Linked DNA regions of Homo sapiens: all the other regions are reported to be linked to region 5. Evidence: microRNA targets listed by miRTarBase, many of them from high-throughput screens and not tested one by one. Region 5 holds a microRNA gene; each other region holds the end of a gene's coding sequence. Distances are from middle to middle.
Evidence for each region. The annotated mature microRNA hsa-miR-545-3p reads UCAGCAAACAUUUAUUGUGUGC and lies in region 5 at 1,276-1,297, shown strand. An mRNA with a match to its seed (bases 2 to 7 or 8) in the 3' UTR can be bound and repressed. Matches are read on the target gene's strand: a 7mer-m8 pairs with bases 2 to 8, a 7mer-A1 pairs with bases 2 to 7 and ends in A, and an 8mer does both.

Region 1: the mRNA of SYP is a reported target of hsa-miR-545-3p. Seed matches in the 3' UTR shown: 7mer-m8 at 2,914-2,920.
Region 2: the mRNA of AGO4 is a reported target of hsa-miR-545-3p. Seed matches in the 3' UTR shown: 8mer at 1,016-1,023 and 7mer-A1 at 266-272.
Region 3: miRTarBase lists KLHL18 as a target of hsa-miR-545-3p. Seed matches in the 3' UTR shown: 7mer-m8 at 1,126-1,132.
Region 4: miRTarBase lists RPRD1B as a target of hsa-miR-545-3p. Seed matches in the 3' UTR shown: 7mer-m8 at 2,490-2,496.
Region 6: the mRNA of SLC39A9 is a reported target of hsa-miR-545-3p. Seed matches in the 3' UTR shown: 7mer-m8 at 1,523-1,529.
Region 7: the mRNA of STRBP is a reported target of hsa-miR-545-3p. Seed matches in the 3' UTR shown: 7mer-m8 at 1,548-1,554 and 8mer at 2,302-2,309.

Annotation. Positions count from the first base shown.
Region 1 is chrX:49,188,709-49,192,085 of GRCh38, reverse strand. It overlaps SYP (synaptophysin), which reads left to right. Exons shown (of 7, transcript NM_003179.3): 6 at 323-653; 7 at 2,804-3,377. The coding sequence ends at 649. Among named protein-coding and RNA genes, the nearest start is that of PRICKLE3, 4.0 kb to the right of the region's middle. RefSeq lists an enhancer at 854-923 and a silencer at 1,763-1,842.
Region 2 is chr1:35,853,123-35,856,499 of GRCh38, reverse strand. AGO4 (argonaute RISC component 4) reads right to left here. Exons shown (of 18, transcript NM_017629.4): 18 at 1-3,003. The coding sequence ends at 2,895. Among named protein-coding and RNA genes, the nearest start is that of AGO1, 28 kb to the left of the region's middle.
Region 3 is chr3:47,343,473-47,346,849 of GRCh38, reverse strand. KLHL18 (kelch like family member 18) reads right to left here. Exons shown (of 10, transcript NM_025010.5): 10 at 34-3,295. The coding sequence ends at 2,909. Among named protein-coding and RNA genes, the nearest start is that of PTPN23, 36 kb to the left of the region's middle.
Region 4 is chr20:38,089,116-38,092,492 of GRCh38, forward strand. It overlaps RPRD1B (regulation of nuclear pre-mRNA domain containing 1B), which reads left to right. Exons shown (of 7, transcript NM_021215.4): 7 at 611-3,249. The coding sequence ends at 760. Among named protein-coding and RNA genes, the nearest start is that of RPRD1B, 57 kb to the left of the region's middle.
Region 5 is chrX:74,285,046-74,288,422 of GRCh38, reverse strand. It overlaps MIR545 (microRNA 545), which reads left to right and starts at 1,214; the gene lies at 1,214-1,319. All of the region lies in intron 1 of FTX (FTX transcript, XIST regulator), which reads left to right. It overlaps MIR374A (microRNA 374a), which reads left to right and starts at 1,066; the gene lies at 1,066-1,137. It overlaps LOC124905199 (a long non-coding RNA gene), which reads left to right. Exons shown (of 2, transcript XR_007068266.1): 2 at 1-558.
Region 6 is chr14:69,458,269-69,461,645 of GRCh38, forward strand. It overlaps SLC39A9 (solute carrier family 39 member 9), which reads left to right. Exons shown (of 7, transcript NM_018375.5): 7 at 95-3,377. The coding sequence ends at 325. Among named protein-coding and RNA genes, the nearest start is that of PLEKHD1, 25 kb to the right of the region's middle. RefSeq lists a silencer at 2,020-2,069.
Region 7 is chr9:123,123,170-123,126,169 of GRCh38, reverse strand. It overlaps STRBP (spermatid perinuclear RNA binding protein), which reads left to right. Exons shown (of 19, transcript NM_018387.5): 19 at 497-3,000. The coding sequence ends at 573. Among named protein-coding and RNA genes, the nearest start is that of MIR600HG, 9.2 kb to the right of the region's middle.

The DNA.
Region 1 (3,377 bases), 25 Mb from region 5:
ACTATGAATATATTACAAATTTACATTTTAAACATGCATAAATGTGTATATAATGTGTATATGTGCAAATATGTAAATAATTGTATATGTAATACTGATAGATCGCAGCATCCCCAGGGCTCCAAATTCTTCTAACACGCCCACCCCGCCAGAGGTGATTTTTCTGCACATCGACGTTCTCGCACTGGGACTCAGAGAGTCTGGGTTTCAGAAACCCCCACCTTGCGGAGCCTACGGATTCATTCCCCGCATGCTCATTCCTGCACGCAGGGCCGCCAAGGCAATGGGCGGGGTACCACAGCCGAGCCTTGTCTCCCTGCAGGTGTTCGGCTTCCTGAACCTGGTGCTCTGGGTCGGCAACCTGTGGTTCGTGTTTAAGGAGACAGGCTGGGCCGCCCCGTTCCTGCGCGCGCCTCCCGGCGCCCCCGAGAAACAACCGGCACCCGGGGACGCCTACGGCGATGCAGGCTACGGGCAGGGCCCCGGCGGGTACGGGCCCCAGGATTCCTACGGGCCTCAGGGCGGCTACCAGCCTGACTATGGTCAACCAGCCGGCAGCGGTGGCAGTGGCTACGGGCCTCAGGGCGACTATGGGCAGCAAGGCTACGGCCCGCAGGGTGCACCCACCTCCTTCTCCAATCAGATGTAGTCTGGTGAGTGACCGGCGAGCGGTGCGGCCAAGGAGGGTACAAGGAAGGAGACGAGCGGGTCAGTGAACCAATAAGAGTCAGGGGTAGAGAGTACGTAAGGCGTTTACTGGGGCAAGTAAGGACTGAAGTTTGAAGGAGCCAATCAAGAGGCAGAACTACCTGCTAAGAGCTGAAAAACTAGCTAATGAATGGAGAAAAGAAGAATGGTGCTTCAAGATGGACAGAATGAAGAGCCAATGGGAGGGAGGTAGAAGGGCAACTCGGCGGAAAGGCGGGGGGAGAGAAGCAGAGCAACCAATAAAGGGAGGGAATATCGGGGGACTTGCGCAGTGGCGAATCAGCGGAGCGCAAGAGCCACGGAAGCGACGAGGAGGTGGGTCTTAGAAGTGACTGATAAGCCAATAGGTGATAAGGCCAATAGATGGTGAGGGTAAATGGGCGTGGATCTTGAAGGTCAGACGAGCTCACCAATCCGGGAGGAGGGGATAGATCTGCCGCCTCTCCCCAACGCTGGAGGGGAGGGAAGTAGTGTGGAATTTCAAAGGAGGAAGAGGGATAGGGTGGGGTCCTGGAAAGGTTTGCCGGCCTTCTTGCTGGGCCTTAAAAGAGAAGTGAGGGTCGGGGCTTGGTGGCTCATGCCTGTAATCTCAGCACTTTGGGAGACCGAGGCGGGCGGGCCGCTTGAGCCCAAGAGTTCGAGACCAGCCTGGGCAACATGATGAAATCCCACCTCTACAAAAAATACAAAAATTAGCCGGGCGTGGTGGCATGCATCTGTGGACCCATCTACTCAGGAGGCTGAAGTGGGAGGATCACTTAAGCCCAGGAGGTTGAGGCTGCCGTGAGCTATGATCCTGCCACTGCACTCCAGCCTGGGCAACAGAGCGAGACCTTGTCTCAAAAAAAAAAAAAAAATGGAAAGAAAGAAAGGAAGAAAAAAAGAAAGAAAGAAAAGAGGCCAGGTGAGGTGGCTCATGCCTGTAATCCCAGCACTTTGGGAGACCAAGGTGGGCAGATCACCTGAGGTCAGGAGTTCGAGACTAGCCTGGCCAACACGGTGAAACCCCGTCTCTACTAAACATATAAAAATTAGCCGGGCATGGTGGCGCACGTCTGTAGTTCCAGCTACTCTGGAGGCTGAGGCAGGAGAATCGCTTGAATCTGGGAGGCGGAGGTTCCAGTGAGTCGAGATTGCGCCACTGCACTCCAGCCTGGGCAACAGAGCGAGACTCTGTCTCAAAACAAAAAAAAAAAGAAAAAGAGAAGTGAGATTTCCCTCAGATAGGAGGGAGGATATAGGGGAGGAAAGGCAGGAGGAAAAGGCTAAGGGGTGGCTAAAAAGTGGGGGAAGGCAAGAAGGTGGCAATACTTGGATGGAGGTAGCTTCTGACACTGGGTTAGCCAGGATGGAAAGGGCATCCCACATCTAATTCATCAAAAAATCCTGTGGGTCCTACCTTCAAAAAATATATCCTTCATCTTCCACTGTCATCTCTCCCAGACCTCTTCTCAGGTCTCCATTTCCATTCTGTTCTACTCACAGCATCTGGAGGGATTCTGTTAAATCCTAAATTAGGCCACAGTCCTCCTGTGTCAGAACTCTGCCCTGTCGCAGGCTGGGCGTGGTAGCTCACGCCTGTAATCCTAGCACTTTAGGAATGCTAGACTTGAACTCCTGGGCTCAGGTGATCCTCCCACCTCAGCCTCCCAAGTAGCTGAGACTATAAGTGTGAGCGACCATGCCCAGCTCACTTTATTTTTTCCATTTCACTTATTATTGTCACCCTATGTTATACGAGATAATCCACTCATGCATCATGTTCGCTGTGTGAAGTCTATCTCTGCTTCAGTATAAGCTCCACAAAGACAGGGATCTTTGTTTTGCTCAATATAGTTTATCACAAATGGCTAGAACAGTACCTGTTAAGGGACTATTTTTTTGGTTGGAGGAAGGAGACTGTAATCTCTTTGGTACCTAACCCAGTGGGGGCAAGGTCAGGTATATCTTCTCAGCAGAGGCAGCTGGGATGAAGCTGGCTCCAGGAAAGAAGAAAAGACATAAAGCCAGGACAAAGGCATAACAGCCCAACCCCTATCTGAGGGCGCCACCCATGTCAGACCCCCTCTCCTTTCTGTGTCTTTTGTCTCTACAGGTCAGTGAAGCCCAGGAGGACCTGGGGGGGGCAAGAGCTCAGGAGAAGGCCTGCCCCCCTTCCCACCCCTATACCCTAGGTCTCCACCCCTCAAGCCAGGAGACCCTGTCTTTGCTGTTTATATATATATATATTATATATAAATATCTATTTATCTGTCTGAGCCCTGCCCTCACTCCACTCCCCTCATCCACTAGGTGCCCAGTCTTGAGTGGGCCCCCTCTCTTACCCCGTCCCTTTCCCTGCATCCCTTGGCCCCTCTCTGTTTACCCTCCCTGTCCCCTGAGGTTAAGGGGATCTAAAAGGAGGACAGGGAGGGAACAGACCTCGGCTGTGTGGGGAGGGTGGGCGTGACTTCAGACTCTCTCCTCTCTCTCCCTCCACTCCTCCCAACTCTGGCCTTGGTTCCTCCAGCAATGCCTGCCTGAACAAAGGCCGTTAGGGAAATCCAACTCCAGGGTTAAAGAAAGGCAGAGATTGGGGGGGCTTGGGGTAGAGAGGACAGTTTAGGACCCAAGGTGGTCTTGGAGAGGAGGTGTGGAGTGGAGGGGTCAGCAGGGGGGTTGGGTTCCAG
Region 2 (3,377 bases), not on the chromosome of region 5:
TTTAAATCTTTCACACCACATGACAGTGCCTCAACAGGCTGCATTTAAAAAACAAAACCAAAACCAAACCAAACAGCCTAAAACTACTTCTAGAGAATGCACACCTCCCATTGATTGACACATGCATAACGATTCAGTCAGTCCCGAGGGGGTTACCTATTCAAATTGTCAAGCCGAATTAAAGTAAAACTATGCATTCAGACTTGCTTGCAATCATATTGCTGCAACTCTGATTCTGCAGTGATTAGCTCTAAAGATTCACCCCTCAGCAAGTTTTTGCCAATAATCCCAGCTCTTCCAAATTTCTTTCCTTTTGTCCAAAATGACAGCATTGCACCTTTAATGGTACTATTTTCCTATAAAAATAGGCCTCCCGGCTTTTCTTCCACCACCACACTGATTTACCCCAGTGTACCAGGACTGACTGAGGTCTTACAAGCTGTATTGTTCGAGGTCGAGCGTAGAGCAAGACAAGCTAATCAGGGCTTTCGGGAACATAGCCTTGCTCCCTGCTCCATACATGCCAGGAGATGGTGAGAAGTGATGCTTCTTCTGTGCGTTATTAATAAGCAAGCCCGAGGCACTCAAGTGCAGGTGTGGTGCCCGCTGGCCAGCCAGCCAGTCACCAAGAGTTCTTCACATCTTGGATTCCAGCAAGTCCTCCTTCTCCTAAAAAAGCTTCCGTTTTTTCCTCCTCTTGGGTCCAGAGTGGCCATGCTGAAGGGTATTCTCTGTGCTCTCCCTGAACAAGTGTGAATAAAAGCAGCAGCCAAGCAGCCAGCCCCTCACCAACATGTCCTGATTTGTATTATCCAAGTGAGGTATTTGCAAAAAAAAAAAAAAAAAAGGAAAATTTTAAGAAATTAACATCTGCCATCTCTTCACTCCTGGCTATGTTGTGCTTCATTTTACAGAACTTGCTTTCATCCCACTATCTGCAGGGATTAAGGACGTCTGCACTCAGCTTAATGAGCAACAGGCCTCGATCGACATAAAACTCTCTCAGAGACCAGTCTCAGCAAACACAGGTGGCGCCGTTGATCAACAGCACATGGAAATGTAAACTTCAATGTATTTACAAGTTTATTTAAACGACTGAAGAAAAACAGTGCTTTATATTGCTGGGATTTTGAGAAGGCTAGTTTATGAGATTTGGACCGTCTCATGAGTTCAAGCAAACACCCTTCACCATCATTTCCCCACCAGCAGTTTCCAGGCAGGGGCGGCAAAATTGTTTTCACCCCATTGTGTCTATCTCTTTCCCTAGCTCCTTCCTCAGCCATATAGAGTGTGGCTCCAGGCCTTTTATCCCCTTTTCCATCCCTCACTCCTGATGTCCTGGATAGAGAATTACAAGTCAGTAAACTCTGGGCTGGGAAACACTGGCTGGTGCTACCAAGACACTATGTAACTGTTGTCCATTCACAAAGTATTATCTACACTACATACAGAATACATTTTCCCCTACATTTTAACTGATGCTCGCTTTAGAGCAACTCCCTTTGTTTGGACAAGAAAGGAATCCCATCTCCCTGTGAGTGGAATCCAGAATCTATTAAGAAAAATCAACCTTTTCCACACAGTTTTAGTTTAATAAAAGGAAGGAAAACCCACCAAGTACATTTCATGTCGAAAGAGAAGCAAAAAATTTGTACTGCAAGTAGTCGTGTGAGTTACCTTGATTCCCAGGAAAAGAAATTTTAAATGCTGGTACATTTGCAAGTTGCAGCATCACTCATTGTACCTTAAGGACTGGCAAAGCCTTTCCAATAAGGAAGCATCCTGGTTCTAGCTTATTTTAAAACAAAGTGACAGGACACCAACTGTGAATATAAAACAGGTAAAAATAATTCTTTAAAAAGGCATGGAAATATATGTCTTTTCTGACTGGTTTCAGAAATTGCCAGATTATGATATATAAGAAATAGCTGATAAAATCATACTGAAATCTCATCTAGAAAACTACATTGTTGGGGAAGGAAGAGGAGAGACCTTAAAAAATGTTTATTGCCAAAGTTAAGTTTCTATGAGAAAAGTTTAAAAATCATTTAGATTTAACAAACCACACAGCAGCATAAAATGGGCACTTTTGAAAACTTGGAAAAATACTAAAAGCAATTTTTTTTTCCAAATAGGGGAAACATGAGTACTTTTATCATGGCAGTGTTATCTCCGTCACTGTGACATGCATTACATCTGTTTATGTCACACATTCACAAAAGTCGACCAAATAAGAGAACTGCCTATTTGAATCTGCAGCCAAATATAGTGCAAATTGCCTGTCAGCATGTACTTGCACCAGCACAAGTCTGCAGAGATCAATAAGATAAAGTAGTAAAACTAATAAAACTCTGTAAAACTTTCAAAAATTAATGCTCATTAAAGGCATTTACAGTGGCAAAGTCAGAAATCTTCATTAAAAAGTCTATGGACCCACACAATTAAATAGTTACACTGAACTGAAGTAGATTGTTTGGTTTTTCTCTCCCACTTATGCATATACCCCACTCAATGACTACAGAAAAAAGGAATAATCTTCTCTTCTAAGACTAGAGGGATGCGGTGAACACCACAGCTAGCAAAATATTCCATAGAAACCCTTCTTGTAAAGTCCTTTAGAAAGTTCAGGCTGATCAGCCTTTGCACATTGAGGTAAAAATTCAGTCCAGTGCATCAGAAAAGATAATCTATTAGTATCTATTACTTTAAAAAAATGGCTCAATTTTGTTGACGCATCAGACAGTGCTGCAAAGTATAGATTCAGTGCAACTATTCCGAGCTGCTGGTAGAAGACCACCTGAAGTCAACGTGGCTCGATCTAGAGGCGGTAGGCATTTGAAACATTTTGAGGCTGCATGGGGTGCCAAATTGGTTGAGTTCTTTTTCTGAGACTCTCAGGCAAAATACATCGTGTGCTGGGTATCATGGTGGATTTGCACAGCCTTAGCCAAGGCCTGAGGATCCCGGCCGTTGCTCTGTCCTGACACATGACTGCCTTCCGCACTGTAAAGAGAATAAAACAAAACAAAACAAAGCAAAACAAACAAACAAAAAACCAAAAACAACAACAACAAAAAAACAAAAAACAGGTGTAACAGAAGACCACTTCAAACTTCACACGTTTCAAATAGCACAAACAGTACTAGATTCTAGAATATCTTAGGCTTAAGCTTTAGCTTCTTGAATAATTTGTTATGTCCTTCTAAATATCAGTTGACTCAACTGAATTTCTTTTTTTTTTTTTTTTTTTTGAGACAGAGTCTCGCTGTCTCCCAGGCTGGAGTTCAGTGGCGCAATCTCGGCTCACTGCAAGCTCTGCCTCCCGGGTTTACACCATTCTCCTGCCTCAGCCTCCCGAGTAGCTGGGACTACAGGCG
Region 3 (3,377 bases), not on the chromosome of region 5:
TATCTGAGAAATAAACCAAGAAAGGACAAGAGCTATTAGGAGTGTTCTCTTTATTTCTCTTTGGTTTCTTAACACAAAAGACATGCATTCTATAAATAAAAGGAACTAAGATTTTCTGGGAAACCATAAATTGGGAGGAATTCCCACAGTCACACCTCTGTGGTCAAGAGGATGGTCTTCAGCCCCCATCTGGCTGTAATCTCTGATGAAATCCAGAAGAGAAGGCCCGTGTGTTATCCAAGAAGGTGAAACACTCAAGGACAGTGAATGCCACAGTCCTCTGCTCAGAGCTGGGCTAGGCCCCAAGGCCCACTGAGTACAATGTCTACCCTATCTCCTTGTTACATCCTTTTTACAATATCCTTGGGTGATGCTTCTTTTCATGGGGCTATTGGAAAGGCTCCAACACCAAAGAGCCAGACCAGCCATTTACGAATAGCCATTCACCATCGGACTGAGGAACCTACTGGGAGAGTGTGAATATGTTGGTGTTTCCTGACTTGTGCTCAGAGCCCAGATCAAAACACTGGCTTGATCTTACTTTGAAACATCGACCTCAGGTGCAGCAGTGTAAATTCTACACCAGGAGGTGGGATTGGACTCAGGAAGTCCACTACAAGAGCAGCAGGCCATGGTAGAAAATGATCTGCCATACCCAGTGGCAAAATCTGGGCCAGTATCCTAAGGACCCACTCAGTAGCCCACAGACCGATTCTTAATACCTTCACAATCCAGGCTTGTTGGTGCTACTTCAAATTCACAAAAGAAAGGGGCTTATAATAAGACAAGCACTGATACACTCCTAACAGGAAATGCACACCCCACCCACCTTCCGAGTCTACCCCTACAGGCAAACCAGGAAGGAGGGAGAAATGCTGGAGCCCTACCACGAGCCCAGGTTAAACGACATCCGATATCAGATTGTTGAGACGTTAAAAATAAAAATATCATTTTCAAGTGCTTGTAGCAGAGGCCTAGCTCCTAAGTTGTAGGTAACAAAGGTACTTCCCTCTGAATACATGGCGATTGCACACACTGGTAAACCTGACGGTCCTGGGGTGGGGGAGACACCCCAGGCTCCACATTGTGCCTTTCTGAACAGGCTTCCAGGCCACCCCAGGCAGGCAGCAAAGGATAGGAAACCAAGCAGGTGGAGACTGGAGCCCTAAGACTCAGTCTTGGGTTACAGGAATTGAATCTTCTTTTAGTCTCTACTGGAAGAATTTTAGAAAACCAATTTTGGCAGCAGCAGTTGAAGGACAGCCCCACTGCCCAGTGCACTGGCAAGAGAAAATGTCCTCCTCTTTGAGTCCCGCTGTGCTACATTAGGTCCTATCCAGGGAGGAGGAAGCAATATGAAATCTTTCCAAAAGGTAAAGGTCATTTGCCAAGATTAGAGGAAGAAATATAAAATCTGTTCTTTGCAGCAGCAAGAGATTCTTTCGGCCTTTAGTTCTTTATGTCATAAAAGCCAGCTGTGCTTGAATGTAAAGGTCCACCTTGCTGGTCAGTCTGCCCAGGGCTGGAGGGAGGCCAGACTCTTGGGATTGGCGAGTGGATGGAGGAGCAGTGGAATGGCAGAGCAGACAAGGTTACCAGACCAAGCCCGCCCACAGCTGGTAGAAGGAAGCCCTGGTTAGGTTCTAGAGGTGCATATGGTCAACGTGCCCCAGAAGCATCACAATGAGGGAAATCATCCAAGAACGAGATTGATGGGCAAGTGAGAATCTGGCCAGACCTGCTGTTTCCTGCTGGTCAAAAAAGGAAGCAATGTTAGTGAGAGTGGGGAATCTGAATGAGCGCCATGGTGGCAGTAGGAGGTAATCACAGGGGCGCCTGGAGCCCCCAGCCACAGCTAGGAGCCCCCACCAAGAAGAGTGGCAGTAATTCAGCAGATAGCCTAACTCTCTACGCCTATGATTTTAAAAGTCCTCTGATGGTGGGTGAGAAGACAAACCCCATGAGCACCTTACTACAGGCCCAGTCAAGAGTGCACTGATTCCACACACACTGGGGCTCAGAGGGAACCCCCAGCTCAATGCGAGGCCTCAGGACCCTGGGATCCGAATGTGGGGTGGATACCGCCCTTCTCCAGTTAGACGATTTTCCATTTAAACATAGATTTGCCGTTAGTGTCTTTTATGCTTTTTTCTTCTTGCAAAATTTGTTCACATAAAAAAATTATTTTTCTTTCCAGTTTCTTTCAAGTGTTTCTTTGTTTAAATTTCCTTCAGTTTCTTTCAAGTATCTTTTTTTCCCTTCTGTTCTCCTGGACAGATCAAAAGGCCTCACTGAAATCCCAAAATTAGACATGGGGAAAACTTCTCTTCTCCCTGCTTACCCAGCAATGAGGACAGAATCCTTGGTGCCCCACTGTGGAAGAAGGAATGTGCCTGTGTGCAGCCTTCCACTGCTGTGGCCACACCATCTCAGGCAGGGAGAACGCTTGGGTCTGTCCTTTCGTCCCCAGCTACATCCCAGTTTCCAGCAGGCTTGGACACTGCAGCCTCCCCATGGCAAATTGGCCAGACTCGGCTGGAGAGCAAGCAGGCGATGGGGAGCATCAGATGGAAGGCCTTCTGTGAACAGCTGGCCCACAGAGAGGCGGTGGGTAGGAGCTGGGCCTGGATGGAGCCTGTGTTCATGTGGACCAGAAAACAGTTCCATGTCACCAGCTGCAGGATCCAGAGGAGCTTGTGTTCCATGCTGTGCATCTTGATGACCCAAGCCTGAAGGTCACAAGGGTGGCACAGTGGGGGAGGGCTTAAGCACCTGGAAAAACTGTACCTCCGGCGAGCTCACGTTTCGCCATCTCTTCTGGTCCACTGCCTCTCCTGAGGGACTGTTCCTGGAAGGAAGCGCCTATGTCTGTACCAGATCCCTGCCCCACCACATCCCATCCTCTGCCTTAGATGGTGAGGAGAGGGATGCAGCCCACACCGACCCCTCCCTCATGGCACGCCATGGGGGCCATGAATGTCCAGCAGTCTGTCTCTGGGTCATACATCTCCACTGAGCTTAGGTTTGACTGTCCGTCGTAGCCCCCAACAGCGTAGAGGCGCCCACAGCTGGCCACCAGGGAGACCCGGCTCCTGCGCGTGTGCATGGGGACAATCAGGCACCACTGGTCTGCCACAGAGCTGTACATCTCGGCAATGCTGAGGAAGCCAGAGCCATCGTAGCCCCCGCAGACAAACATCTTGCTCCCCAGGGAGGCGGCTCCGTGCCGGCAGCGCTTGTTGAGCATGCCAGCTGCAGGGTGCCAGGTGGCTGTGTGGTGGTTGTAGTGTTCCACCTGCAGTGGGGAGAGAGGCACAGGTACAGGACAGTCAGAGGCAAAGCTCAGTCCATGGAGTGACCGTGCAGGGCACAGCAGC
Region 4 (3,377 bases), not on the chromosome of region 5:
TGGGCTTTTGGGAGAGAAGTCTGGTGGCATTTTAGGAGCCCTAGGGGTCAGGAGGCCTAACCAGGGACTTACTGCAGTGACTCAGTTATGGAATGAGGAGGCCCTGGTCACAGGGAGTAGCAGTGGGGTATTTTGAGCTTCTATAGTGCTTGTTTGCAAAACATGATAAATTTAGGTTAATCTCCAAGCTTTAACATAGGAAGTATAACTTCAGTGTTTTTTTTCTTGCCATATCTAGGTGGAGTCCGCAAAGAAATTGTGAGGCTCAGGTGTCTGTTTTATTTTATAAAGCATTTTGAAACTTTTGAGAACCAACAAAAAGAGAATGCAAATACCAAGTGTTATTTCTTTCTACTTCCAAATCTCAAGCCCTAAATTGAATACCATTTAATTCACTGTTGCCAATATGGCACTCTGCGTTCCTTTTTTGATAGAAAGTTTTGCCTTTTGAGCATTTGAAGCCCTAGCTTTGTGATATAGCTGAACAGGGTGGGCAGGCTGGTGGGGACAAGGAAGAACACGAGGACGAGAGTAGCTGCCCGGCTCCAGCAGCACCCATGCCCTCGGCACGCACAGACTTAACGGTATTGTCTTCTCTTTATCTCCTTAGGAATACAAACAGAAGCTTGCACGAGTAACCCAGGTCCGCAAGGAACTGAAATCCCATATTCAGAGCTTGCCAGACCTCTCACTGCTGCCCAACGTCACAGGGGGCTTAGCCCCCCTGCCCTCTGCTGGGGACCTGTTTTCAACTGACTAGGATGGGTGTCATGTCCCAGATTTCTGTTTGTACCAGCAGAAAGAAGAGGGCAAGTCATGGTTGGAAATAACCTTCTAGCCCCTGGTTCTATCCCTTCTTCCGCCCAGCCCCCCAGCCTCAAGAAAGAACCTCAGACTCTGATTCTCCTCTTCAGCCTCTCATCTTGAGCACAGTTCAGAACAGTGGCGACTGGAATCTGGTTTATATTCATATTTGCAAAGACTACAGACTTTTTCTCCCACTTCATATTTTCATGCCCCCCTGTTGGTTTTCCATTCTTAACTGTCTCCTTATACCTAAGAAGTTATGAAAATCATGTGTACTTCTGGAAGCTTTCGAAAGAATCTTGTCCCTCATGACAGCATTTTATCATGAAAGCAGCTTCTCCTTTCTGGGCTGGGCTTGTTCAAGTTCGGTGTGGGCTTCCACTAAGGCACTTGTCCTGGAGACGTTGGCTTTCCCAGCTGCATCTGCCCCAAAAGGTTGTAGGCACAGCTGTCGTAGCGTTGCCATAAAGAGTTTGCCAAATCTCTGATCCTCCCTTTCCATTGCTTCTCCTAGTGATGCACGAAGATTAGGTGCATTTATTTTGTAAACAGATTGGAGAATCTAGCAATAAGATTCAAAGCTAATCTGGAGCATAAAGGCACAGTTCAGAGACAGAATAACAGGGATCACAAGCATGAATTAAAAGGAATTTATTTGCTTCAAGTTCCTAGATACAACCTTCCCATGCTGCACTTCTCCACTGTCGGAGCACGTTCCGAAAAACAGAATGCCTTGATCCCTGGTGGGTGCGAAGGCAGTTGTTAGGGATGGCAGGCATTGGTGGGCTCCAAAAGATGAAGGCCCCACACACAGGTGTGCTGCATTTGGGATCTGTGTGGGTGTTTCTTGGACCCTTTCTTCTGGGAGTAGGGTACACACTAACGTTTAATCCGCTGTCTGGGTGCATGTCCACAGTACGGTGGCTAAACTCGAACATCACTGCAAATAGGACGCTGAGCAGGTCCGTCTGTCATGTCACGCCACTGCACAGGTCCTTGTCCCCACACGACGGGGAGTACTTGCGTCAGATGTTATTGAATAGCTCGTCTCGGGCAGGGGAAGCGGGGAGTTGGGGATATTAATTGGGGGTTTTAATTCTATTATCATGTCAGCTGACATTATGACTATATAATGTAGTTAGAGACAATTTTTATCTTGCTTATAGTAAAGGTTCAGCCTGCCAATTGTAAATCATTCTAATTTGGCAGGCTTATTTTTGACATTGGAAAGGGCAGAAAGCGATTTGCCCCAGTAGTGTAATAGGAGTTATAGACCAGAGGCTGAAACCCAAACTATATAAAAAGGAATTCAGTGGAGGGGGCTTTGTAATCTCCATTAATTTGTGTTGCTACTTCCAGGATCACCAAAAATTACATGTAATTTTACATGTTAAACACATTGAAACATAACCTATGTTTATAAAGCATAACGGGCTTCCCTTCCAGAAGCTCTCCTGCTTGTCATGAAGTGAGAACAATGAAAAGTCATAGCAGATACTCAGTTTAACTCTGTGTAGAACCTAGTAGTGTTTGAGCTGTTATTCAGATTTGAATTCAGACTGTGTGTTGTTTGCTTATGGACACTGCCTGTCGTTCTGTCACTGTTAAATTAATGAGTCTATAAGGTTTTTCTTCCAGAGGCCATAGGTGACATCACTAAAATTGCAAGATAAATTGTAATCTTTGCTGCTGCTGCACTCCCCAACCTCTCCCCCACCCCCCGTGGTGTGCTGCTTTCTAGATGAGCGTGTTTTGGAGCAGGCCCATCTGGGACACTCTATGCTTTCACCAAGGAAGTGCGATCTGAGCAGCCACAATCCAGCCAAAAGAGGATCGTAGATATTTGCTCTGATCAACTAGATGAAAATATAGCAGAATGGATTTAGCCCACTGCTCTGTTTTATCCAACTGAGTCTCTGACCAGCAATTGGTGCATAATTATTACAGCAAAAGTTAAGAAATGAAACTGTAGCAATTATGTAAATGAATGTGTTGGCCTCTTAATACCTGTTACTAGTGGACTTCCTGTGAGGAAGTTAGTTTTTTGTTTTGATGAAATGCTTTCGTTTTTTAAATCTTAATTCTGCTGTCCACATCCTCCCAAAGTGTGCTTACTTCATTTGTTTAATTTAAATGAACTTTCCTCCTTGTATGTATGAGGTGACTTGGTGGGTGGGGTGGGTGGTTTTTGTTTTTGTGTTTTTTCTTTCTTAGGGCATCTGTAGGCCTCAAAGGACCTTTCCTTTAGGTCATATTCCTCAGAAAGTCTTCAATCTTCCCTTGTTTTTGTTTGTTTGTTTTTCTTAAAGAATATTTTCAAAGCTTAAATTTGTATATTAATTTAGGACTATTTAGAAGTATAGGCTGTCGTTGGCGGCAGCAGTATATTCTGAAATGTCTCATAGATATATATTTTTGAATAAAGATGGTGTTGTTGAACAACATTGTGTGATTTTTTTTTTAAACTACCCTGTTACTGAAAACAGTGCCTTTCTTTGTAAGCAGTGGGTGATTAGTAATCACCAATAGAGAATGTGCTGTCGGCACAGAATCTTGTCCCTTGGGAGTTT
Region 5 (3,377 bases):
AAATGCTAATAGGAACACGCTAGCATGTGAGAAGGCACCAGGAGTGGGCTAATTGGCAGAAAGGAACAGTGTATAGGCAAGAGCAGTGAAATAACTTTAGGGGAAAATAGTATGTTAAGCTTATTAAATAACAGCCTCATAGAGACATTGGGTCCCAAAACAGTGATCTCAGTATAACTGTCAACAACTTGCTGATGTTATCAGCCCTATTTGCTGGTCAGAGACAAAAAAGCCAGTAAAAACCTAGGTATTATTAAGAAAGGTATGAGGCACAGAAAAATGCCATCTTATCTTTGTATAAAACCATCTGAACCAAATAACTATTACAGTAATAATCTTGCCTCAAGGAGTCTGTTACTATCACTCACATGATTTTGAAAAGGGAGTGGGCAGAGTGTGTTATCTCTCTGTTTCATTTTTCTTGTTTATAATACATAGGTGAATTAGATATTCTCAAAGGTCTTGGAGGGGTCTAATTCTGGTTTCCTGAAACTGAATGTTATTTCTAGTTTAGAGAATCTGTTTAATTATGTTTATTAAATAAACTTTTCTAACTTATTCCTACTCTGATCTGTATATTATCTATTTTGTATTTAATAACATTCTAACTTTTTTTTTCCAGTGAAGGATGAGGATTATTGGATTTAGAAGTGCCAAATGAGCTATTACTTACTGCTTTTTGCTATCCGGTTACACTGGGTTAATCCAGTTAGTTGTAAGCTCCCATTTTTCAGCATTTTGCTAGCTGTAGATATTAAACCAGGCTCATGTGGGTAGTAGGGTGGGGAGGTTAAGAGGAGTATAAGCAAAAAGGAAAAAAAAAAGCTCATATTTTAGAGGAGGGGATTGAGAAGTTCCTTTATTGGAAGTCTGTGCATGGAAGTCCCATTTTACATCATGCCAGTGTCTAGTTCCCAATTCCGTCTATGGCCACGGGTTAGGGAAAGCCTGAATATTTGAAATAACCGAAAAGCATTTAACCTTTGATTTCTATAATTTGTTCCTCACCTCTCTTGATGTTACAGCCAGCAGCAGCCTGGAGCAGCACCCCCTGGGAAGAAATTTTACATCGGCCATTATAATACAACCTGATAAGTGTTATAGCACTTATCAGATTGTATTGTAATTGTCTGTGTATATGCCTGTCTCTCTTCCTGTTATCAGTTAGACTGTGAGCTCCTTGAGGGCAAGGAAGGTGTCTTCATCTCCAGAGCCCAGCCTGGCACATTAGTAGGCCTCAGTAAATGTTTATTAGATGAATAAATGAATGACTCATCAGCAAACATTTATTGTGTGCCTGCTAAAGTGAGCTCCACAGGCTCTGGATTGTCAGCTGTTTCTTCAAAAAGCATGTGGTCAGAAATTTGATATTTCTGTATATATCTTCCTAAGAGTTTCTCATGAGACAATGCCATTTTTGTGTTTGGATTTCAGTCCTTGATATTTACAGATGTTGCAACTGTTGCTATTGCTGACACTTGCTTTCTTGGTGGGACTTGAGTGATAACTGTTAGATTGGGGCCTCATCCTCAGGGCCCAGGTAATCATCCAAATAGTATTCTTAGATAGGACTTTGCATTTTTCTTTCTTTTTTTTTTTTTTTTAAGGGACAGGTTCTCACTCTGTTGCCCAGGCTGGAGTGCAATGGTGCGAACACGGGTCACTGCAGCCTCGAACTCCTAGGCTCAGGTGATCTTCCACCTCAGCATTCTGAGTTAGGACTATAGGTGTGTGCCACCACCCCTGGCTAATGTTTGTATTTTTCGTAGAGAAGGGGTCTCGTTATGGTGCCCAGGCTGTTCTTGAACTCCTGGACTCAAGCGATCTACCTCCCTCAGCCTCCCAGAGTGCTGGGATTACAGGTGTGAGCCACTGCACCCAACCAGACTCCATATTCTAAACCAAGGGTGGGCAAACTTTATTGCCCATGGGCTACCTGTTTTTGTAAATACCATTCTATATTGGAACACAGCCATGTTCATTCATCGATGTTTTACCTGGGGCCGCTTTTGCGGCCCAGTGGCACAATTAAGTAGCTATTAGGTTGGTGCAAAAGTAGTTGCTGTTTTTGCCATTAAATATATTGGAGACATTGTGGCCCACAAAGCCTTTGTAGAAAAAGATCTGTGCCCACTCTGGATCATCACTCGACAGTGATGGTTTCATTTCTCATTCCATTCACCAGACCAGAAATTCATATTTATTTACTTCATTTGTCATTGCTTGTGACAAGTCTTTTTCCTCTTTTACAGATAAGCCAGCTAAGACATGTTTTAAAGTAGAAGATTATAAGACCTCCCCCAGGGTCCTGCAGTCAGTCAGTTATACCCTGCCCTTCAACATCAAGCTTTGAACCTCTACTCTAGAAATACCTTTTATTATATTCAAACTTGAAGCACGTGGACATAGCATGCTTTGGTGCCTTCGTCCTTGCCCCCCTCCTTCCTACACAGTTCTTTGCAATGAGAATATGGGAAATAAGGACTTAATGTGAGATAAGGCAGAAAGGTAAGCTGAGGCAAATGTTTAGAGGGTCCCTAACACTAATTTTTAAATGAAGAAGTGGGGTGTCTGAAATACTCATTTATTTAGATGTATACAGATAGTGAGCCTAGACTTCCAAGAGCTTAGAGCCCCTCCCCTTGTGCCTCCCCAACTTTACATGTACTATCTTGGTAACCTGCCTATGAATACATGTTGATTCATTTCACTTCATTAAAAAGTCGGAGAGCTCAAAGTCATATTTGAGAAAGCTAAATCTAAAACAAAATGGAGGAAACACTGAATAGGTTCATCTCGTTGGATAGGATCATCCTAGGAATAAAATATAATAGAAGGAAAGGTCTTACAGCCATATTTTTAAAGCTGCTTGCTGGATTTTTCCCAAAATTGTATTGTGAAAGTTGTCAAACATACATACAGAAAAGTTGAAAGAATTGTACGGTGAAAAGCCATGTACCCAACACCTAGATTTTATAATTAACATTTAACTATACAGTCATGTGTTGCTTAAAGACAGGATATGTTCTGAGTAATGGATCATTAAGTCATTTTGTTGTTGTGTGAACATCATAGGGGAGTGTACTTATACAAACCTAGATGGTATAGCTTACTACACACCTAGGCTATATGGTATAGCCTATTCCTCCTAGGCTACAAACCTGTACAGCATGTTGCTGTATTGAATACTGTAGGCATTTGGAATACAGTGGTAAGTATTTGTATATCCAAACATATCTAACATAGAAAAGGTACAGTAAAAACGTGGTGTTATTATCTTATGGGACCACCATTGTATATGCGCCTGTGACTGAAATGTTACTATAAGATTCAGGACTGTTTGTGTTATCACAGTAACTCATCTTTGTTGAATAGGT
Region 6 (3,377 bases), not on the chromosome of region 5:
GTTAAGAACAGTGAGTGTTTTTTAACTGGGACTTCTTCCTGACCCTGAATTTTACTTGACTTAGTTTTTCCTCTTTCTCTCTTCTAATTCACAGAGCAGTAAAGAAGCCCTTTCAGAGGTGAACGCCACGGGAGTGGCCATGCTTTTCTCTGCCGGGACATTTCTTTATGTTGCCACAGTACATGTCCTCCCTGAGGTGGGCGGAATAGGGCACAGCCACAAGCCCGATGCCACGGGAGGGAGAGGCCTCAGCCGCCTGGAAGTGGCAGCCCTGGTTCTGGGTTGCCTCATCCCTCTCATCCTGTCAGTAGGACACCAGCATTAAATGTTCAAGGTCCAGCCTTGGTCCAGGGCCGTTTGCCATCCAGTGAGAACAGCCGGCACGTGACAGCTACTCACTTCCTCAGTCTCTTGTCTCACCTTGCGCATCTCTACATGTATTCCTAGAGTCCAGAGGGGAGGTGAGGTTAAAACCTGAGTAATGGAAAAGCTTTTAGAGTAGAAACACATTTACGTTGCAGTTAGCTATAGACATCCCATTGTGTTATCTTTTAAAAGGCCCTTGACATTTTGCGTTTTAATATTTCTCTTAACCCTATTCTCAGGGAAGATGGAATTTAGTTTTAAGGAAAAGAGGAGAACTTCATACTCACAATGAAATAGTGATTATGAAAATACAGTGTTCTGTAATTAAGCTATGTCTCTTTCTTCTTAGTTTAGAGGCTCTGCTACTTTATCCATTGATTTTTAACATGGTTCCCACCATGTAAGACTGGTGCTTTAGCATCTATGCCACATGCGTTGATGGAAGGTCATAGCACCCACTCACTTAGATGCTAAAGGTGATTCTAGTTAATCTGGGATTAGGGTCAGGAAAATGATAGCAAGACACATTGAAAGCTCTCTTTATACTCAAAAGAGATATCCATTGAAAAGGGATGTCTAGAGGGATTTAAACAGCTCCTTTGGCACGTGCCTCTCTGAATCCAGCCTGCCATTCCATCAAATGGAGCAGGAGAGGTGGGAGGAGCTTCTAAAGAGGTGACTGGTATTTTGTAGCATTCCTTGTCAAGTTCTCCTTTGCAGAATACCTGTCTCCACATTCCTAGAGAGGAGCCAAGTTCTAGTAGTTTCAGTTCTAGGCTTTCCTTCAAGAACAGTCAGATCACAAAGTGTCTTTGGAAATTAAGGGATATTAAATTTTAAGTGATTTTTGGATGGTTATTGATATCTTTGTAGTAGCTTTTTTTAAAAGACTACCAAAATGTATGGTTGTCCTTTTTTTTTGTTTTTTTTTTTTTTAATTATTTCTCTTAGCAGATCAGCAATCCCTCTAGGGACCTAAATACTAGGTCAGCTTTGGCGACACTGTGTCTTCTCACATAACCACCTGTAGCAAGATGGATCATAAATGAGAAGTGTTTGCCTATTGATTTAAAGCTTATTGGAATCATGTCTCTTGTCTCTTCGTCTTTTCTTTGCTTTTCTTCTAACTTTTCCCTCTAGCCTCTCCTCGCCACAATTTGCTGCTTACTGCTGGTGTTAATATTTGTGTGGGATGAATTCTTATCAGGACAACCACTTCTCGAACTGTAATAATGAAGATAATAATATCTTTATTCTTTATCCCCCTTCAAAGAAATTACCTTTGTGTCAAATGCCGCTTTGTTGAGCCCTTAAAATACCACCTCCTCATGTGTAAATTGACACAATCACTAATCTGGTAATTTAAACAATTGAGATAGCAAAAGTGTTTAACAGACTAGGATAATTTTTTTTTCATATTTGCCAAAATTTTTGTAAACCCTGTCTTGTCAAATAAGTGTATAATATTGTATTATTAATTTATTTTTACTTTCTATACCATTTCAAAACACATTACACTAAGGGGGAACCAAGACTAGTTTCTTCAGGGCAGTGGACGTAGTAGTTTGTAAAAACGTTTTCTATGACGCATAAGCTAGCATGCCTATGATTTATTTCCTTCATGAATTTGTCACTGGATCAGCAGCTGTGGAAATAAAGCTTGTGAGCCCTCTGCTGGCCACAGTGAGGAAAGTAGCACAAATAGGATACAGTTGTATGTAGTCATTGGCAACAATTGCATACAATTTTACTACCAAGAGAAGGTATAGTATGGAAAGTCCAAATGACTTCCTTGATTGGATGTTAACAGCTGACTGGTGTGAGACTTGAGGTTTCATCTAGTCCTTCAAAACTATATGGTTGCCTAGATTCTCTCTGGAAACTGACTTTGTCAAATAAATAGCAGATTGTAGTGTCTGGTTTGGTTTGGACAGTAGTGCTTTCTATCATATTGTTGTGTGCAATGGTAATTTGTTCTACTGGCCAAAGCCTCTTTCAGCAGTGCCTTGCCATCATGCTTAAAAGTTTGGCTAGTATATCTTGCTGGATGGAGCCTTGAACTCCGGCAAGGATTGAACCATCTGACTTCCAAATTTGCCTTCCCCTCTGGACCTCACTATTAACAAGCAAACCTTTCAGGGCCCTCTTAGCTCTCAGAAGCTATGTATGGGCTTTCCCAGATTTTAAAGCTGCTGCCTCGAGAACTACTCATTTCTCTCCTGGTCAGCAGACAGAAATAGCCATACTAATCTCATAGGGCTCAAATGCATCTTCAGGCAGCAGGGAACCAAGCAGCGTGGCACAGGCCTTCTTGACTGGAGGAAGAGCTTGCTGGCATGGTGGGCAGTATTCCAGGAGAGGCCATGTCCGTGTTCACTTCTTGGCACATTTCAGTTCCGTTTTCCTCTTGTTTAAAACTGCCTCTTTAGATGTGGATGCCTTAATGCTGTAACACATTTGAAAACATTGGCAATACTTAAGTTGCTGCCATGATTACAGATGGAATTATTGGCTACCAAAGAGACGCAATTGATGATGAGAAGCATGATTCTTGCTTCCATATAACCAAAGTTAATCTTAATTGCAATTTGACTCCGTTTCCTTGGTAGGGATAGACTTTCTTCAGATTCCAAGTGCTCTCTTAAATGGCAAATTAAGTTAAAGAATACTACTGCTCCATTCCCCTCACTTATTCTCCAGTTAATTGCTTGTCAGTTCCATTTCAAGAAAGCAGTGATGTTCCAGGTTTGATTCAGTTTTCCTGTGCACACTATTGCCAAATTTTTTTTTAGCAAAGATTCTGCACTGGAACGTAGACAGTTGGAAACAGTACTACCTACCTAGAGGTTATGTGTTTTCTCTTTCTCCCCGCTTTCACCTCTTTCTTTCCCAATTCAAAACAGCCAAGTGAGCCCTGTTCTGGTATTTTGAATCATTAGAGAAAAGAAAGGGAGTGGCTGTTTTGAGTTGTCCTTTCTTTGCAGAAAGGAGAAAATGTGATTGTGTTTTTT
Region 7 (3,000 bases), not on the chromosome of region 5:
AAGTAATTAATCTTTCCAGATTTGCCATGCCAATATTGGCCATAGCCATTAAGAAGTTAAGTAAACGCCTGGCCATGGCTCCAGCTGGAGCTGAGGTCTGCATGGAAAGCTATGCTTTGAACCTTGACAACCCGTTTCTCCTGGAATATGTGATATGCCACATTGAGAACCAATATGGATTTCTACAGTCGATTAGAACATGATTCAATAGCATTGCTTTTGATTTTCAGAATTCATGGTAGCTCACTCAATGAAATTGCTTCCTAGATGTAGCCATCCTGATTTTGAGAGTGGAAAATATTATTTATCAAAATATTAAGAGCAATTTCAAAATAGATCTGTGAGCGATTTATGGGCCTCTTGCAAAATGGTATACATGTTGACTGACTGATCTGGAAAAGGTTAATGATAATTACTGTCAGATATTTTTTTACCTGAAATTTTTATTGGAGTATTAAAACTTATTTGGAGTCCTCTCCGTTTCTTTTCTCTGTAGGTTTACCCAAGAGAATGGTTCTGTTACCCGTTATGAAATTTCCAACATATCCTGTTCCCCACTACTCATTCTTTTAGCAAATGACAGAAGCTAATTCCTATTGAACAACAATACAGTACAACACAGAATGTTAGAGAAAAAGCCTTTTTATCCTGCTTTCTTTGAACACATACTTGATCAAAATTATTTGTAAAGAACATCTTTCCTACTTTTTGATTTTAACAAATGCAAATTTAGTTCTCTAAAACTTGAAAAAAAAAAAAGAAACCAGTTCTGTGAAAACGGTACCTCATTTCTGGAAAATAACTTATACCAGCCCTTCTGTTCTAGGGAAATAAAAGTCTAGCAGTTCAAAGTTTAAGTTTTAAGAGACGTATCAGATTATGTAAAATTAAATTTGTGAAGGATGTATAGAGTCTCAAACACTGATCACAAATAAACTGCTTTGTTGTAACACAGAGTACTGCCTGGTTCCTGATGCAGTCACTGATTCTTAGTTGATTGATATGTATTTGCCCCAGGGCACTTTAATTTGGGCTGTAGTTATTTTTTTTAATACAATAGAGACTTTTCATTTAACTTTAACTTTGTAAATATTGAAGTGTGTAATAAAGCCAATAAAATATGGGTTTGAATATTGTTTTAGCTTATTATTTTTGATATGTTTTGGTATCAAATTACAAGGAATTGAAAACTAATAACTTAGCCCTAGAAGCCCATTCACTTGTAAGCAAAGTGCTAAAACAAAGCAAAGGTGATTGTTAGTTTGAGCCAGTCTACTCACTTTGTAAGCCCTTTGTACTCCTGTTGTACAAGGGCCATCCCCATGATAAAGGTTCCATTCTGTTATTTGAGCATTGCTTATTAAAATGATGGCACTACCCAGAGATGGGGAAGGAGAATGTGATTATCCTAGTTTATGAATTTCCAAGTTTTTAAAAATAATAAATTAATCAATCAATCACCCTCTCTTGTTCTTGTGGCCTTCTTCACTCTGTAAGATATTGTGTTCACTCCCTGGCTTTTTTCATGCAGATAGAAGATTAGTGATTTTGCTGGGATTCATTGAAGGGTCTCCTTTCCTCTTCAATTACATCAGAATCTAAAGCAGCAACAGGGTCCCCATAAAAACTTGCTCTTCGATTGTCCCAGTTCTTGTTGAGTGCTGCTGTGAAAAGTGACAGGTTTCAGCCATGGGTCAGCATTTCTTTTTAAGACACCTGATGATGCTGGTGGAAATGGATCAGTGGGTAACATTGTGCTGTTCTGTAAAGGGTGCAGACCTAAGTCCTCCACTTGCATTCTCACCTTGTTTGGAAAGCCAATGATGTTACTAGGTCAATGGTTTCATTAAGGTACTCACCCCCATGAAGGAGCAGCAGTGTGGTCCCCTGTCAATATTTATAAGGCACCATGTCTTAAAAATGTCTGTTTTTAGTATGAATTAGCTTTCATTTTCCCTATTCAGTTCTGCTTTTGGGAACTTGACAGGGCCCATCCATGAGAATGGGCTTCACAAAATATGGCAAATGTATGTACCAAATTCCTTCGGGACCACTAAATAAAGGTGAAATGGGCAATGTACAACAAATGTTAGTGTCACTTCTCAGATATATATTACACAATGATTAGTTTGTTTCTTCTCCTTGGTCTTTTGTCTTTATTAGTGGTGGGTGATACTTTAATAAAACCTCATCACTTGCTGGAAATAGCTGTAACTTATCATTCTCATCCTGTGCATTAGTGGCTAGACATAAACAAGAGGGCCCATTTCAGCTGGGAGTTTTCATGTTTCATTGATGCGTTTTGCTGACCTATGGATGAAACAGAGCCATCACTGAGAAGAAAAAGCATGGCTGATAGTGTCCAGTTTTTATTAATTAAATCTTTACAGTAGTCCTCATTGTCTTTGGAATACTATTAATTGGCAGCTGCGGCTGTATTGTTATTTGAAATTGGTCATCAAATTTGGATTCCACGTTGGAATCTCTAGATATTTCTCGTTAGAAAATTCTTTTGAAGTAGCTGACTCTGCTTCATAACTCACGCGCTCTGTAATGGTGAAAAGGGAGCTGTGCTGTTTTCCAACATGATGGCAGTCATTTCAAATGGTTTCTACCAAGTCTTTTTTTTTTTTTTTTAATTTTGTTGTTTGTTGGAAGTTACTAACCATGTTGTAAACCTGCCCAGTTGCTGCAAACTTTTACATTTCTCTGCTTTACTTAAAATAATCGAGCTGTCAGTCCTTTGTTAGAAGTGGTAACCATGCAAGTTCAACTGTTTAAATTCTGTAATGAATTAAGTGTCCCCCCACCTGTTGCCCTTCCCACCCTTCCATTTTGTAATGAAAATTCCACTTACAGCTGAAAGAGCAGAGAAATATAAATGAAGCTCTTGGCTTCACCAAATTGCCTGAGATTAACATGAAGTTTTGCTTCTCTGCTCTTTTCTCCACTGTAGGTGGTTTTTTCATTGACAGCCCCTATTGCCAGCCTCTGAGCGTC